2 separate regions of the Homo sapiens genome follow, and region 1 is linked to region 2. The links come from fine-mapping of genetic effects on gene expression. A gene starts in region 2. The other region holds a variant in brackets. All regions are shown on one strand. Distances are from middle to middle. Region 1 overlaps MBNL1 (muscleblind like splicing regulator 1). Region 2 holds the start of MBNL1 (muscleblind like splicing regulator 1).

Evidence for each region. PIP is the estimated chance that this variant, and not a neighbour inherited with it, causes the effect.
Region 1: its variant is fine-mapped to the expression of MBNL1 in CD8 T cells (Kasela 2017, PIP 0.95). The same link has a PIP of 0.9 or more in B cells, CD4 T cells, NK cells, ileum, monocytes and monocytes after LPS.

The regions. Positions count from the first base shown.
Region 1 is chr3:152,460,529-152,468,834 of GRCh38, forward strand. MBNL1 (muscleblind like splicing regulator 1) reads left to right here. Exons shown (of 10, transcript NM_021038.5): 10 at 1,857-5,252. Among named protein-coding and RNA genes, the nearest start is that of MBNL1-AS1, 200 kb to the left of the region's middle. The variant C/T (reference allele first, on the strand shown) is at 4,260.
Region 2 is chr3:152,265,437-152,273,725 of GRCh38, forward strand. It overlaps MBNL1 (muscleblind like splicing regulator 1), which reads left to right and starts at 3,493. Exons shown (of 10, transcript NM_021038.5): 1 at 3,493-3,656. It overlaps MBNL1-AS1 (MBNL1 antisense RNA 1), which reads right to left and starts at 4,190. Exons shown (of 2, transcript NR_027038.1): 1 at 3,992-4,190; 2 at 1-3,636. RefSeq lists enhancers at 2,696-3,538, 2,981-3,080, 3,539-4,380 and silencers at 3,271-3,330, 3,381-3,430, 3,831-3,940.

The sequences.
Region 1 (8,306 bases), 200 kb after region 2:
GGGTGCAGCGCACCAGCATGGCACATGTATACATATGTAACTAACCTGCACAATGTGCACATGTACCCTAAAACTTAAAGTATAAAAAAAAAAACAAAAAAAAAAACCACTGTCTTAAATACTTAAAAAGGTGTCCATTTTTCATCCATAGGAATATGTTTTGTCCAGTATGCATGCATTCAAGTTATAACATGTGCTCAGATGCTTGTTATTTATTTTTATATTTAGAAAGAGACATTACATTTAAAACTGAAATTGGTTAAGATGGGTGACCATTCTTTGTTGCTTCCTTTATTTATTTATTAACATATTTACAAATGAGTTTTTGGTGCTACTTTGTGTTAGTTACCATGGCAAGGAGATAAAGGTAAATAGATAATAAGATAAAGATGTAAGGAATTTCAGGATAATATAGTAAAATAAGAGAGGTTTGAAGAAATTTCTCTTAGAGCAAAGATGAAGGAGCAGCTGTTCCCAACAGGATCCGTAAACAAATGAATGTGGACAATGAAGGTGTTGTTCTAAAGAGAATGGAGGTGTAAAGGCCTTGTAAAAGAAGGACAGTGTGCCAAGTCAGGAAACGATGATGGCTGAGAACCAACTCAGAAACCCTTGTGATGTTAATCTGTAGCAAAGCTGGACAAAGTCAAAGCCCATGCAGGAGAACAGGCAGAATTCAATAGCCATTTAAGAAAGAAATGAGAGGCTCAACTGGAGAAGTACTGCCAAAGATATGCTGCAATCGTGAATTATTAAAATTGATTTTTGTCTATTTCATAAGTTTTCTCAAAGCAGTTCTGATAAAAAGGTTCAGATTCTGAACAATAGCCACATTTGTAGAAGAAGAGGCATTACTTTGCAGTGTTGTAGGTTTAGAAGAAGAGGTTTTTTTGACATGCCAGAAAAATCTGTTTCAAGCTCTTATAGTCAATTAGGTGTGTTTGGTATGTATATATTTAACTAAATTCTGTTTCTTAGCAATAATCCAGGTTGAAAAAAATTTCTAAAAATAATTAGCAAACCAGTAGTTTTGTCTGTATTGAAGCTAAGCTTTTAATGTTCTGTTCATTTAACAAATGATTGCTCATCTTCATGAGGAGTTGCAACATTTAAACTGGTTTTTGAGTCACTAGATTATGATTTCTTTCATTTTCAAGGTTGTATTGTGAAGCATACTTTTAATATATGTAAATATTCGCTGCTGAGAACAAATTTCATGTAAAAACTGGAACTGTTAATCCACAAGTACATTGTAATGTCTATTACAGCTTAATTCATGAGTAATAATTCTGTAATTCAAAAAGAATGATTTTTATTTTCTTAGTTTTAGGTGAAAAAAGTTCAACAAACTGAATTACCCAAAGCCATCACTTAAAGTATCATTCTTTTTTTTTCAAACATGCATTATGCTAATCAAGCACCCAAAAAGAATAAATCTTGTTTAATAGAACATATTACATGAATTTTAATTTTGTAGACCAGACCTTTACTCTTGAAACCTTATTAAACTTCAGAAAAGAAGTTTAAATTTTGCCCTACAACAATTGTGCTAAAAAAGAGCTCTGTATATTAGGCCCCCTGATTCTGCAAATGTATTTTATACTTTTAGTTTAGGATTGGTAAATTTTGGAGCACATTCTACAGTTTTATTAAATTGTACGTGTTATTTCATTCGTGTAGAGATGATAGACAAATTTTGATCTGTCTACTCTTGTAAAATGGTTTTTGTTTTTATATGAAGATATAATGTAAATATACTGGTTAATCAAAAAGAAAATTTTCATATTAAATGTATATTAGAAACTGCTTTTAGATATTACCTGTTCTAACAAAGCTTATCTCTTTTTCCCTTGTAGATCATGCTAAAGAGGAAAGGACAGTGTGCTTGGTTAGAGTAAAGGACGAGGTCATTAGCCATATTGTATATATCGTCAAGCAACACACACAAAAGTTCCTCAGCCACAAGACATCCACATATTGCATGTTAACCAGAAGAAAAGACAACATTTTCCGGAAATCCACTGCACACTGTTGCCTATACACTTTGTACATTTAATTGATATTTGTGCTGAGGTGATATTCCTGTCTAAAAGAACAACATTGTCTTTCTTTTCTAGCACAGAGTTATGCATTCAAAGATGCATACCTAGTTAGTTTCCTATATATTCATGCCATCTTGAAAAGACAGACTATGGTGTAACCATGATTCTATTATGTATTGGTACGTCTGTAGACCAAGATATAATTTTTTAAAAATAAGTTTATTTCTTTCAAGGTTTACAAATAACAAAGGTGCACCTTGTATTTAAAATTGCCATTATAGATGAGAGCGTGCATGCACAGTCATTTTTGTTTAAGAGTAATATTTTTAATGTAATAGATTGTAAGACGTGGTGAGGGAGGGATCTGACAGAGATGAATGTGCCAAGCAAAACCACAACTGTGTATATTTTAAAGCACATCATGGCTTTAAGTACCATGTTGTTAAGGATTCTCATGAAGTGCCATAGACTGTACATCAAATTAGAGTATTATTTCTTCAGTGTTATTGTTTTCAGAGCCACATTTTGTTGCATATTTGCTAGTACTAATCAGTCAAAGGGCACCATTCTTTTTTTTTTTTTTTGAAACCAAAGCTGTCTCAGAAATGGCCAATTTAACTTTACAGTAACAATAGACAGCACAACACAAACTCTCTCAATACAGATAAACTCACACATACTGGAGATATATATATAATAGATATATATAAAATTATTTTAATGCATTGTAGTGTAATATTTATGCATACTATACTGTATAACATGTTATTCAAAAGGGATTGCCATTTCTGAGACACAGTAACAAAAAAATGAGGAAATTATTTTGCTTCTATTTATAGCCTCTGTCAAAAGTCAAAAGACTATAAATGCTTTGCAAAAATGGTTTCACGTTTGCTTAAATGCTTCATCACAGTCACATTCAAAATAGTGACTCTAAACAAAGAAGAAAGCAGCACTGTCATCAGATGCATGATAAACCAAAATATGAAAATGGGAAATGTTTAATTAACCTAGTAATTGGGTGGGTTAAGTACATGGGTGAATTTTATATGTGATTTTTGTTTTGTTTTGTTTTGTTCAGATTAACTGCTTATAGCCTTAGAAAGCCTTTTACAAAATTAAAAAAAAAATAGATGTGCATTCAGTTTTTAAGAATGGAATCATCCAAAGGAATTCCTTTTTTTGAGGTTTGGATGTTGCAGCTAGTAAAGGATATTTTTGCTCTGTTCAGCAGTTCTAAAAATTGCTGAAGTAGGGGCCAGGTCACTGGTAGTTATAGTATGGAATGGGAGAAGTGAAAGTTCAGTTATAGAACTTTCCATACTTCCAAGTTTACTGCAAGTTTTTATGCTTGAGAGAGATGCTTTCTAATATAAGACTGATGTGTTGATTTTACTGATTGTACTGTACATCTATTAAAGCCTTAGATTATTACATTACGGGTTGGAACCCATACCAATGTAATTTCAATCGTGTTAAGAAAGTAATGGTGACTTCACATGTTATTGTAGTTAGTTACATTATAGAATATTACTTATTTTTCTTGTTAAAATGTAGTTTTTCATTTCCTACATTTATTAGATTTTCATTTTCTATTAACAATTGAATACCATTTCAGTTTATAGACTTGTTTTATTAGATTTTACCAATGAATTTTTCAAAATACAAAAAAAAGTAGTTTTTCCTTCATAACATACTCAGTTTTGAATTACATGTAGTGTCACATGAATATTCGTATTGTTAACTAAATGATTTATATTTTACTGATTTAATATTACAGTGTAAGAATGTCAGTCATTGTTAGTTCTTGTCTAGTTTTCATTAAAAGAACAAAGATCTTTTATATGGATATCTTATAAATATATAATCATTGCTAAGTAAGAAGTTAAGTTGTTGCTATCGCAACAATCCTGGCAGACAATTGAGTAATATTTTGATGATTTATTTTGTTTGTAATTAGTTATTATAAGAAGATCTAGATCCTAGATATTAGAATAAAATTTATTTTCTACTGTATCCATTTCAAATGTTAAAATATTGTTTAATATTTTTGAAATCCCTGAGTATCAGGCCTTGTTATAAATAAGCTGCATAATCAATAAATAGAACAAGGGACTTTTTGTTGATAATCCAAATACTCAAAGTTTACGTAATGAAAATTATAGCGTGTGTGCAAACTCTTGAGGGTTGATTATGCTGCAATTTAGCATGTTGGAA[C/T]GTCTAGGGAGAAGGTTGACTTTTTGCACTTCTGTATATAGTCAAAAGAGAGAAACCTGTATAATAGTAAGATCTTATTTTGAATAAAAACGTCTATAATTACAAGGAGTTTTGTTAAGGCTAATACAATGACAGACTGAGCAAAATTGCTTGCAAAAGTGGCACAGAGTTAGCACTCCATACCCCTTCAAACATGTTGCTTTGCTTTCTTGTGGACAGCTTGTAGTTTGCCAGGATTTTTTCAGCTGGAAAGATACGCCATCCTTTCAAACCCTCATGACTGACAAAAACTCCATGGGGCCAAATCTGCCTGAAGATCATTACCAAAAATAGCAGGTACTTCTACCATTAAGGTGAAATCATGGATCAGATATTCCTTACATTTTTCAAAACTACTGCATGTTTAAAACTTCAACAAAAAAAGAGAGAAAGAACTATACTAAGAACATATATTATTCAGATCAGTTTCTGCCAATTTCAGTGGTTTATTGTTCACAAAAAAATCTTCAAAACAAGTATTGACTTTCACAAAATTTAAATCATAAACAGGCAAACCAAACAGCACACTGTAGCTATAGTTGTTATGTGATTGTTTTTTAATTGCTGTAGGATCCTGTTCTTTCAGCAGGTGAAAAATAAAACGCAGTTCAAATTTCATGGTTTTAATTTTCAACTCAGAAGCACTCAAAAATGCAAAATGTGATAATGGGCACTTGTTTAAAAGAATTAGTGTATCCAGCCTTCACTCCAGCTGGTTAAAAATGTTGCACTTATCAGCAACCCTACCACTTTCATCTGCTGAAAGGACAAATGTGCTTGGTTTTACTATTATGTAATCACAACTTACTTTCTGCTTGTAGTTGCTTAAAATTATGTATTTTGTCTTGGGCTGCAATTTGTTTTATGCTTATTTTATTATTACTGCAGTAGTTGACTTTGCTGTATGGAAAAATAAAGTGAAATTGCCCTAATAAAACTTCTCTTTCTTAAGTATATTCGTGTATCTGAGATTGAATACTAAATTATTTTTGCGTGTTTCATGTATTCATGCATATGTATCTATCTTTACAAACATATTGATGTATAAATTTGTTACCTGGTTTTAACTGATTGCAACTGCGAGGAAGGCATTTGTTGTCTTTCTCACTAATTATCCTTTGACACTGAGAGGGAGAATCTAAATCAGCATATATTGCCCTCCTGTGCCCAATGTTTTCTGAAATTCTTGCCTTCCCCTGTCTGACACTTTAAGCGCTGATTGAAATAGTTTTAAGTGTCAGGGCAAAAAACGGTAAGAAAAAAATTATTATACATTATAGATCACTATCTATCTTTTATTAAAGAAATCTTATTTGCCTGACTGCTGCGTCAGCTGATTAGGACTGGAAATCAGGCAATCCAAGAGAGGTGATGGCACTGTATTCAGAGGGATGAAAGAAATTATGCATATGATCTATGAGGCAGGCCATGATATTACTCCTGAGGGGTGTGTGTGTGTGTGTGTGTGTGAATGTCTTAAACGGTGGGTTAAAAACTTTGTTGAAGTGGGGCCTGGCATCACATATAAGCTTTGCAGTTTCTACAGATAGCCAGTGAATGCCAAAGTTTCAACATGAAGAACGTGCACATTGTATCATTTAGTTCTACTTTATGCTGACTGCCACTTGGTATTTGGTCAAGAGTTACAAATGCTCATTTGTAGGTTGATGCCTTTTTTTCTAAAATTTATTGTGATAAAAATAGGTGCATTATTCATAATCAATACAGTTCTGTTACTGGTTGAGTTCTAAAGGACAATTCTGTTATTTTCAGTAGGTCCAACTGTTCTGGGTGCCACTTGTCAAAAAGAATGGCTGCCCTGAAGATGATTGTCTAAAGCAGGAGTTCACAGCCTTTTTTGAGTAATATCAAGACATCTGGCTCTTTCCAGTTAGTGATATTTTGGAAATCTTTTCATTGAAAAAATGCATAACTAAAAGTCCTTGTAACTTTTGCAATACTTTAAATGAAACTGTATTTTGTTAATCACAACAGCATATACATGCATCTGAAAAATTATTTTCAGAAGAGTTATTATTACAACGCCCACTAGGAGTCCTCAGCTCACAGAATGGGACTCTGTTAGAAGTCATTCGTTTTTCATTTGGAGAACAAAATCGTTTGCTAGAGCTATTACTTCATCACATACCCTTGGTACTCATGGAATTTAAACTTTGAAATGATACTAAAGGTCAGTGATGTAGCAATCTATTATTTCACTGAGACATACTTTTGAATGCCTGTATGAATGCTTTCATACAGGAAGTAGTCACTAAAGCACTGGGGAGACATTGCAGTGGTCGAGGAACGGCTCAAAAATCAGAACACCTGGAATCACGTCGCAGCTCCCTGACCTTGGCAAATTACTTCTCTGACTCAGTTTCCACTTTAATAAAATAAGTACGAGAATATAAATACTGCACCATTATTGAGTGGTTTCCAGACTTTGCTGCAAACTGGAATTGTCGGGGGGATTTTTTTTTTTTTTTTTTTTTTTTTTTTTTTTGAGACAGTCTTGCTCTGTGGCCCCGGCTGGAGTGCAGTGGCGCGATCTTGGCTCACTCCAAGTTCCGCCTCCCAGGTTCACGCCATTCTCCCGCCTCAGCCTCCCGAGTAGCTGGGACTACAGGCGCCTGCCACCACGCCCGGCTAATTTTTTGTATTTTTAGTAGAGATGGGGTTTCGATACTTTTAAAATAAAACTCAATAAAAGTATCGATACTTTTAAAAGATCCCCCAGATAACTGGTTCCTACCTGCACACATTCTGGTTTAATGACTATGGAGGAAAGAACTGGGTTAATATATAAAAAGAGCTTAGAAAGTTGCTTGGTTTATAGCAAGTAATTGATACATGTTAACTATGATTGCTATTTTATCAATTTTAAAAATCACTCCACTTATTCTTCAACTTTTTATCCTGATTCTTCGATTACACATCCCTTTCAAAGTAGCCAGGTACACACACTCTCTCATTTATATTATCTGTAATTTTATCTTTCATGTTTAGCAATGAAACTATCTTGTAATTTACCACCACCACAAGACCTGCTGTTACTTCATTTATACTATTTCAAAAACAGAATCAAGTACATTTTTATTAACTCTGAAAATTTTGTATAATTCTTATTTCAATTTGATATGGTCAATCTGAAAATTTTGTATAGTTCTTACTTCAATTTGATATGGTCACAGACAACACCTAGCCCATTTAGACCCAATATGAAAGTAACCATTTAGGCATATCTAAGCTTAACTCTTTGAATCCCCCTTCAAATATTTTAACTGTGTTCAAGATCAAGTAATAGAATGAATGCATTATGAAAATGATACCATTAAATAATGTATTTTAAATATTTTTATTGTATTTATCAAAATAATACTTCTAGTAACATTTCAGTGACACTAGTATATTTCCATAACATGTTTCATCATAGGTTTATTTTGAATGCTTAAATTAGTACTATTTCAACTTAAACATATTAGAATCTGGTTATATACTGTACAGGATGCTAGGCTCTGAGATACAAGGATCAATGGCAAGAACCTTACAGTGTAATGACTAAAACAAAATATGTAGAGTATGTAATTCCATCTGTATAGACACTCATCTAGTATTTCCCTCCTCCCTCACTAGTCCGAATCTCTTTATACCACAAAATAATTTAGAATAAAATTAAATAAAAACTACATTCTCTTCTGGAATACAATGATACAACTCCCCTACTTACTGTCTAACTCACTTTATCCTTAAAAATTAACTTGAATATTGAAAAAATATTTTTGAATAAACATGTTCATTGCAGCATTTTTATAATGGCAAAATCCTGGTCTCAATACTTAGGAAATGTTTCAATACTTAGGAAATAAGTAAAGTATCATACAGTGTTATATATTTATAAAGCATTTTTTCAAAAATGAGTTAATCACATAGGAAAGTAATTTTAGTGGTAAGATAATAGGAGACTTTAATTGGCTTTTCAGAGATTTCTAGTTTAGTAAATATTCA
Region 2 (8,289 bases):
TTATATTGCAGAGGCAGTGAGAGCTTATTGAGCTATGAATGTGGTATGCAGAAGAAGTAAGTCACAATTCACACAGGCACTCACACACTTACATAGGTACCTTAAATATCCCCATTGGACTGAAAAAGATAAATGCTGCCATTATCTTTATCTTTATTATTGGTAAACAAGGAGCTGACATTATCTATAAAAACCATATTCCTTAACTGTATTTTTATTGAGATTCATTGGTATAATTAAAACTTGAATGGACTGAAATATTTCAGGAACCTGCAGTGAACACTCTTTCCTTTATCTGAAAATGTAGTTTATTTCATCTGAAATTGTTTTCTATAATTTCCCTCTCCACCCATAAATGACCTTCTTTTTATACTCATGGATATACTCACTTATGAACCTGTAGACTATACACTTCACAGAAATAGGAGAAACCATAATGTTCTCCTGGCACTGAGGGAATATCAATGGTATTCTAAATGAGGAACTATTAACTTTTTATTACAATAATGATTTTTTAGTAATTTCCATAGTTTGAAATGTGGTTAGGATGCTACTGGCAGTTGAAAGCTGACAACATGATTGAATAGTTTTAACATGATCTGGTGTTTGTTACAGTGCTTTAAAATTTTAAATATTATCATTCATGTTATAATGTTATCCAGTGATAGTCAATTAGGCCAAATCAGTGGTAATTTAGTGTTATATCACAATTTATTTGGACTCGAGTTATAGATTGACCATTGCTTTGTGAGTTTTCTTAGCCATTCTGTTTTTCTGTATCTAATGTAAAATAACATTTTTTCTCCTTTTTTATTTACCAGGATGGTTATTCTACTGTTTCTAACATTAAAGGATCATCCTTGTATTTCTTTGTATTCTGTCATGGAGTAAAAAACATGTCTCATCTCAGTTTCCATTTCTCTTTTGCTCCCAGAAGTCCCCCCTCCTCCAGTGTTGAAGTAGAAATATAATTTCCCCTTTTGCACCATAAGCAGGTTCAAAAGTCCTGTGTTTCACCATGTTGCTCCAAACAGCAAATTTTCTAACCCACATGAAAAAAGAACACTACAGTTCTAACTTGGAATTCTACAAGGGTTTGAGAACAATTGAAAATAAATTTCTACCACTAGGATTAGTCCTTAGTGGTTCGCAGGCATTCTAAGCAGAGGGGCATGGAAGCTAGCTAGGGCACCAACCTGCTAGCAGATGCAAAGTTTGCTCTACTAAGAAGTTAGGCCTTTAATATCACAGACAATGGGAGGCAAAATGAAGACATAAAAAGGCAAGTAGCAAGCAATTCAGTAGGCTAAGCCAGGGATTTGAGAGTCTCCCAAGGCTCCTCCCTTCCTCATTCCCTGCATGAGTCATTTTTCCAGTCTGTCCACACCCATTCACCCCTCCATCCCACACTCTCATTCACCCTCCAAGCTGCCGTCACAGGAACTTTCTGCAATACAAGTCCAGACTCCATCTCTGGCCCTTGCTGCCTAAACTTTCCTAGTTCATTAGTTTTGGCAGTAAAGTTGAGACTCGTTAGATCAACACAGACCTACTTTTAGTGTCATCTCCTGCCACTCTCCTGTACTACCCTACCCTCGCTTCTCACAGAAAGGCTGAGAAGGCTGGCAGACCCCTTGTATATACCCTGCTCCTTTCGTTTTCTTTGAGACAGGGTCTTTTAATGTCACCCAGGCTGGTCTCAAACTCCTGGCCTCAATCCTCCCTCCATGGCCTCCCAAAGTGCTGGGATTACAGGTGTGAGCCATGCCATCCAGCCTGCCCTGCTCTTTTCTCTTCTCCACCTGGACTCTACTCCCTTTTGATCTTGCCAACTTCTACACACCTTTCAAGGCACCAGTTAAATGTAAATCCTCCAGGAACCCTTCCTTTGCCATCCTCAGAGCCCTCATTGGATTGCTTCCCACATACAGCACTTATCCCTTATGCAGAATTAATCGGTTTGTCTCTCACCTACTAGAGGCGTTATCCTTGAGTGTAGGGACTGTCTTATCCATTCTTGCATCACTGGCATAGTAGGCACTAAATGTAGTTGCTGAATGCTTAATAAGAGGAATGGAAGTCTTCGTAGCTTGGGGTAGATACTAATGGGCAGATAGAAAGTTCCCATCCCTGTTCTCTGAGAAAGTGTCAGTGTTCTTTTAGTTTGCTTAAACTGTGTGGGTACTTGAGTCCTTTTAAACGATTAACGCTGGGAAGAGGCACCATTTAATTAATTAATTTGTTCTGGAAGGGATCAGTGTACAATTTTAACTCAGTGCTTTGTGGATCTAGCTAAAGGTCAAGAACTAAAGTCGGCTATTAGTGCCTCTGGAAGATATTTCTGCACTTTAGCACCTTTCTGATGTTTTTCCTTCACCTCGAGCTGGCCTCACTCTCTTCAACAAAACCGAACCTGCAGGAAGAATGTTGTACCATATCCAGCATTTTTGTCCCAACAAACATGGGACAAACGTTTTTCACTAGAATCATCCTTGAACAAGTTATCCGAATTCCTTACATTCAAAGGAAATCCTGCCCCCAGTCTCCAAAACTTCATCACATCACAGACGTTCAGGATTCTTTCCATTCAAAGCAAAGCCAAGTTACATCTTATAGCACCCAGTGAATTATGATATGGGGCTGCGGTTTATTTGCTCTGGCGACAATATGGCTTACTTGCCGTGGAATATCCCGGTATTTCAGAAGTAACATATTATTTTTAAAGAGGGAGCTTTGCTTTCTCTAAATCACATGGTGCAAAGTTGGGAATACAGTGGCCTGTAAATTACAAATATTATTTACAAACTAGAAGGAAAGCTGACATGTGTTTGTGCCTGTGTGACAGTTTCACTAAGGAATTCCAAAACTGTGGATAGCCTGTTACTTGAGAAAAATACACGGTGGCAGTCTTGCAGATGTTTTTCCCGCCTGTTAGCCCTCCAGGTTCAAAAACTGTTTGGTGCATTTTAAGGCGGCAGTCTCACCAGATCGCAGGATTCTAGTCTAATTGGCTTCTAACCTTCAATCTAACCTTGCCGGCTTCCTTGCAAAGCCCGGTGCAAGGGCCTCTTTCAAAATGAACCCACTGGTGTGCCTAGCAGTCGGTAGAAGAAGCGGGAGGGCGTCCGGTCTGCACGCCCGCCGCGAGGTTACAATGCTGAACGCATGAGATGGAAGATACCAACGGGAGGCCGAGGGGATCCACGGCGCCCGCGCGGGCTCCGGCTTCCTCCTGCTCTCGGCGCCGCTGGGCGACCGCCCATGACCCGCTCTTGCGGGCTCTGTCCGGTTGACAGGCGACCCTGTGGCCCGGGGAAGCGCGGGAGGGCGCCGGCGGAAAGTTGAAGAGCGTTTTTCTCGCCGCCGCGTGCATTAGGAGCTCGACGAGTCCGCCCTGGGCTTCCTGGTGGGGCTGGGCGGGCGGGGGAGGGGCCGCGCAGCAGCAGCGGAAGCCAGACCTCGGCGATAAGAGGCTGCACAGCGACATGCAACAGTCTTTTCACTGCAGCTGAATGAGTTGTGGCGCCCACAATGCTCCCATGACAAGGAGCTGACAAGTTCCATTTTCCGTCGCGGGCATCTTGGAATCATGACTCCCACAATGCCTTGGGCACTTGGTCGACAGTGGGGCCGCCTCTGAAAAAAAAATGTGAGAGGTAAGTTTCCATTTTCACAGTTTCCCCGCGCCGCTTCATTGTTCGGACTCCGGCGGGTCTGCCCGTGGCTGAAGGAGGAAGTGCGAGGAGGTGCTCGCCGGCCGCGGTTCTCCCGGGCAGGGGCGGGCCGCTCGCGGTAGTTGGTTTCGCGTCCCTCAGCACCTCCTGCCCGGGGGAAGGCGGGAGGGTGAGCCGCAGCCGCTCCTGCGCCCTTCCCTGCCGCGGGCTCTGCGGACGCTGTCACGGCACAGCCCGCGCACGGCTTGGCAGCCCAGCGGGACCCAGGGAGAAACAGGGGGGCGAGAAGAGAAACAGGTGCGTGCAAGTGTACTCACAACTTAATGACCTTTGTCGGGGGAAGGTGTGAGTCCCTCTGAGTCGAGCGGCGCGCGGGTCTTCCCGGCGGCTCCCGCATCCCTGGCCCCGGGGCTGCCATCCCGCCCGGTTTTCATCTGGGCCAAATATGTGCACGCAAAGGTTAATTCTCTGCTTGCTACCCATAAATTACGCATGACATGTTTAGCTGGGCTGCCTTATATGGAGAGTGCTGTATTTCAGGCCAGTTTGCCTTTTGCCAAGTTTACAGGGCGGAAGACGCCCTGTAGGAGAGGGCTGCCTCCTCCTTTTCTTCTTCTTCTTTTTTTTTTCATCGTTTTGTAGTGCGTCACTCAAAAACTGTAAGAAAAGTAAGTATAGAAGCTCTTTGGGTGGAGCCGCAGTTGGTTGAATTGCTTTCATGAAAGGTTGAAAAGAATGAAAAGTAGTTAGTACTTGGGTTCTGGTTTTTAGACAAAAGCAGGACAAATATGTAGCCACCCCCCAACTTTTTTTTTTTTTTTTAAACGGAGCCGGAATCTGTTATTGGTAGTAATGTGTCATGTGAGAATACTTTGATTCCAGAGCCTGTAACACGAGCAGGTATATGGTGGCGCTTATGCCTTCCCCTCGCACAGCACTTTACAACTACAGGGGTGTTGCTGCCAGAGTAATATTGTATTCTTAAGGCTCTCTGGGGCCGGGAGAGTATGCGGCTGTTGGGATTCTGGGGTGTATTTCCGTGGAGTATGTCTCCCCAGGATTAAAGTTAAGAAGCTGCCGGAAAGGTTGTTGCCGCTGACTTCACTTTGTGTGCCCACCAGCACAGGCACAAGTCATAGCAGATGGATGGCAAACTCTGCCATATACTCTGAGGAGTTTCTTAAATTAATACGCTAGGAGAGAAGTCATAATTAATGCTTTTAGACTTTCGAGCCCTCTGCAGCGTGCTTTGAAATACTACACCGGTGGACACTATGTCCCTTCCTCCTGGGTTTGAACACAGTGTCTGTTTATACACAGAGGGTGTTTAGTACCTAAGTATTCTATACCAGCACAAGAGAGCCACTCCACAGTTATCTCTCTGTGTGGATTCCTAAGTGTGTTGGTGTTTCTCCTTGCTGTTGAGATAAAATATTATCACCCAGAGAGAAAATGAAAGTTCAACGACTGTAAAATTTATCCCAGGAATGTGCAGTTCAATACTTAGAATGTCTTAGATGTAGTTATAGATAGAGGCACTGAATAAGTTATTTTGTAGCCTGAGAATGCACATCGCTGTCACTTGTATCTTGCTTTCTTAAAGTTGGTGACAACTAAGGCTAAACTTCTTTAGAAAACCTAATGTTCTAGTTTTTATCTGTTTTGTGTATTTGCATGGGAGTTACTTTATTATTATTATTATATTGTTAGGTCTTCTTTGAAAATGTAGGCATAGCTTTTTTAGTCTTATTTGTTTAATGGGGGGTTTCCTTGCTGAAGACTACAAAAGTTGCCTTTTGTGTTTTAAGGAACAGGTTGGGTCAGCAACAGAAAACCTGTTCATCTATAATTATAGTGTCACTTAAGACATAATAATCAGATTTCATTATTACTAAGAGACTCAGAAAAACCTCACATATGCCTAGTTTAATTTTTTTCCTTATGTAACTGTGAACAAATTTGTGTGTAGATACACATCAAGTGTGGTACTCTGCGCAGTCATGCCAAAGAGAAACTGAAGTGTTATATGGTTTGAGATATTATTGCTTGTGTTTACATTTCCACATTTGAGGCAAAGTTAGACTCCAAGTTGAATTCATTAAATTTTGATTCCAACATTCTGTTCTTCCTTTGGGCACAGAATTCCTATGAAATGAAACACTGGGTTTTGTTCCAGAACAAGAACAGACTAACCCAAAATTTCTCCTGGGGGAAAAAAAAAGAGTAAAATTATATTTCTCATTGAAAATTGTATTTCTCATTGAGGAAGGGTGTGTTACTTTATTATATAAAATGCCTTATCTTCATTATAAGAAAAAAATGCCCTTGCATTTGTCACTGTTGCCATACATTAGGCCTGTATTTGATAGATCTATATGGAAACAGAGAATAAATAATCTTGCTGCACCTTCTGGCTTTCTGCTTGGTGATAGATGTGCGGATTAGAGAACATCTCAGGTCTTGGTTAGGAGAAGCTGAAAAGAATAGGTGATTGGGTTTTTAAAATTCTGTATGCAAAGGCATTAGGGTGGGTAGTAGATATGAGAGTCAAAAGAGTGGAGGAAAGAAGTGAAATAGGTTCACGAAGTGATTGGCCCAAAATAAAATCCCATCAACCATATGGATCATAGAGAATGTGACATAGAAAGATTTTAAAGTGTATGGTTTTTTTAGGCCAAAAAGCTTCATATGTTTGGAAATCTAGAATGTGCTGTCCAGTACAGTAGCCACATGTGGCTGTTGAGCACTTGAAATGTGTCTTGTCCAGATTGAGAAGTGTAAAATACTACCGGTTTTGAAAACTTTATATGAGGGGAAGAAAGTAAAACATCTGATTAATATTTTTATATTTATGATATGTTTTAATGATAATTTTTGATATATTGGTTCTAATAGAAGATCTTACTAGATTAACTTCACCTGTTTCTTTTCTCTCTCTCTCTCTCTCTCTCTCTCTCTCTTTCATGGTGTCTAGAAAATATAACAAATGTGGCTAACATCGTATTTATTTTGGACAGTGTTGTTCTAGGATAAAGCAGGAAAACAATATTCTGGGAGAAAGCTTAAAGATTTTGCTGGTCAAAACAATAAAATTGGCTTATTTTATTATACATAGAAATACCTCGTCTTTCTTATCCATTGTAACCAAAATTTGAGAAAACACACCACCTAACATCTATTTTTATTTCCTCAAAGCTGCTATTTAGTTTAGAGATTTGATGGTGAGGTAGTAATAATAGAGAAAAACTTATAATTAGAGAATGAGTCTTAACACCTCTCAAAGGCCAAAATAGAGTATGATTGTTACTTAGGAACATTTTAGAGACACTGTAGTTATCATTGTCCTGAAGTTACCAAACATAAACGAGTCACTAAAATTATTTTAAAATAGAGATTTTAGTAAATAGCAATTATCTTCAAATACTTAATATGTGTTTTCTTTTGCTAGAACTTTCTTTAGAAAGTTAAAAAAAAAAACCCATATCCAAAGTCCTGAGCAAATGTTAATAAAAGATTGCTGCATTCATAAGAATGAAAGATTTTTACCTGCAGATAGGAGGGTATTGTTTTGAATATTAGCAAAGGTGAAAATGTGTTTCTAACGTAACATTATGGGCTCTGAAGAATTTCTATACATGGAGACACTGTCTTTATAATTTGAACACATTCTTGAGAAGGCATCTGACTGGTAAACAAAGCACAATGGCATAGGTCCTGGAAACATTCCTTTCAGATATTTTCATAACTGAAGTACATTTTGCCATTCACAGTGAGTGTTAAGCTGAAAAAAATGTGGTTCTTTTCTAGCCATATAAAGTATGCTTACTATTATTTTCTCGAAGGATGCCAAAAAATGTAAAATGGATGTTGTGGATTCTTCGTGGGGAGGTTAGCTAGTTTGTATATAGAGCCTCAAGAAGAGTTGCCTCAGCTTGGTGCCATCTTGAGTCTGTCTTCCACTAGATGAGGCATAGCTTCCATTAGTGTCAGTGCGTGTGTGGAGGGTGAGGGGAAGAATGATCCCCATTAACTTTGTATATTGTTTCTGATGAGTCATGGAGCATATTCACTAATGGTTGGAGAATTATTGATTGCAAGGCAGAGGATTCAAGAAGAGCTATTGGCATATGGCATTAACTGTCTCTAGACATATTTTTTATTTTTAAATTTGAGGTAGAGAAATCGGTTTTTACGTAGTGTTTTTCATATTATAAAAAATAAACGTTTATATAAGCATTACAGATACATCCTTGAGGAAAAAAATAGTAAATACATGGTTATAGTTTTCTACATATTACCAGTTTTTTTCATAACAGATCCAGAACATCTCTTTCAGATAATCGTTCATGTTTTTAGAGAGGCATCTCATCATATGTGCCTGTGAAATCTGTAAAAATATGTGTAACACACATCTTGAAATATTTGTGTTAGGAGAATTAAGTCTTACACATTTGGTTCTTTTTCTACTGTTTTTGATTATGTTCTCTAGGTTACTATGATTATCTTTTGTTAAAACAGTTCAGGAAATATTAATCTCAAAACGAAATGTAGCCATATTGGACAGAGTAGAGAATTGCTTTTCCACAGAGACCAGTTATTCCAAAAAGGTGAAGAT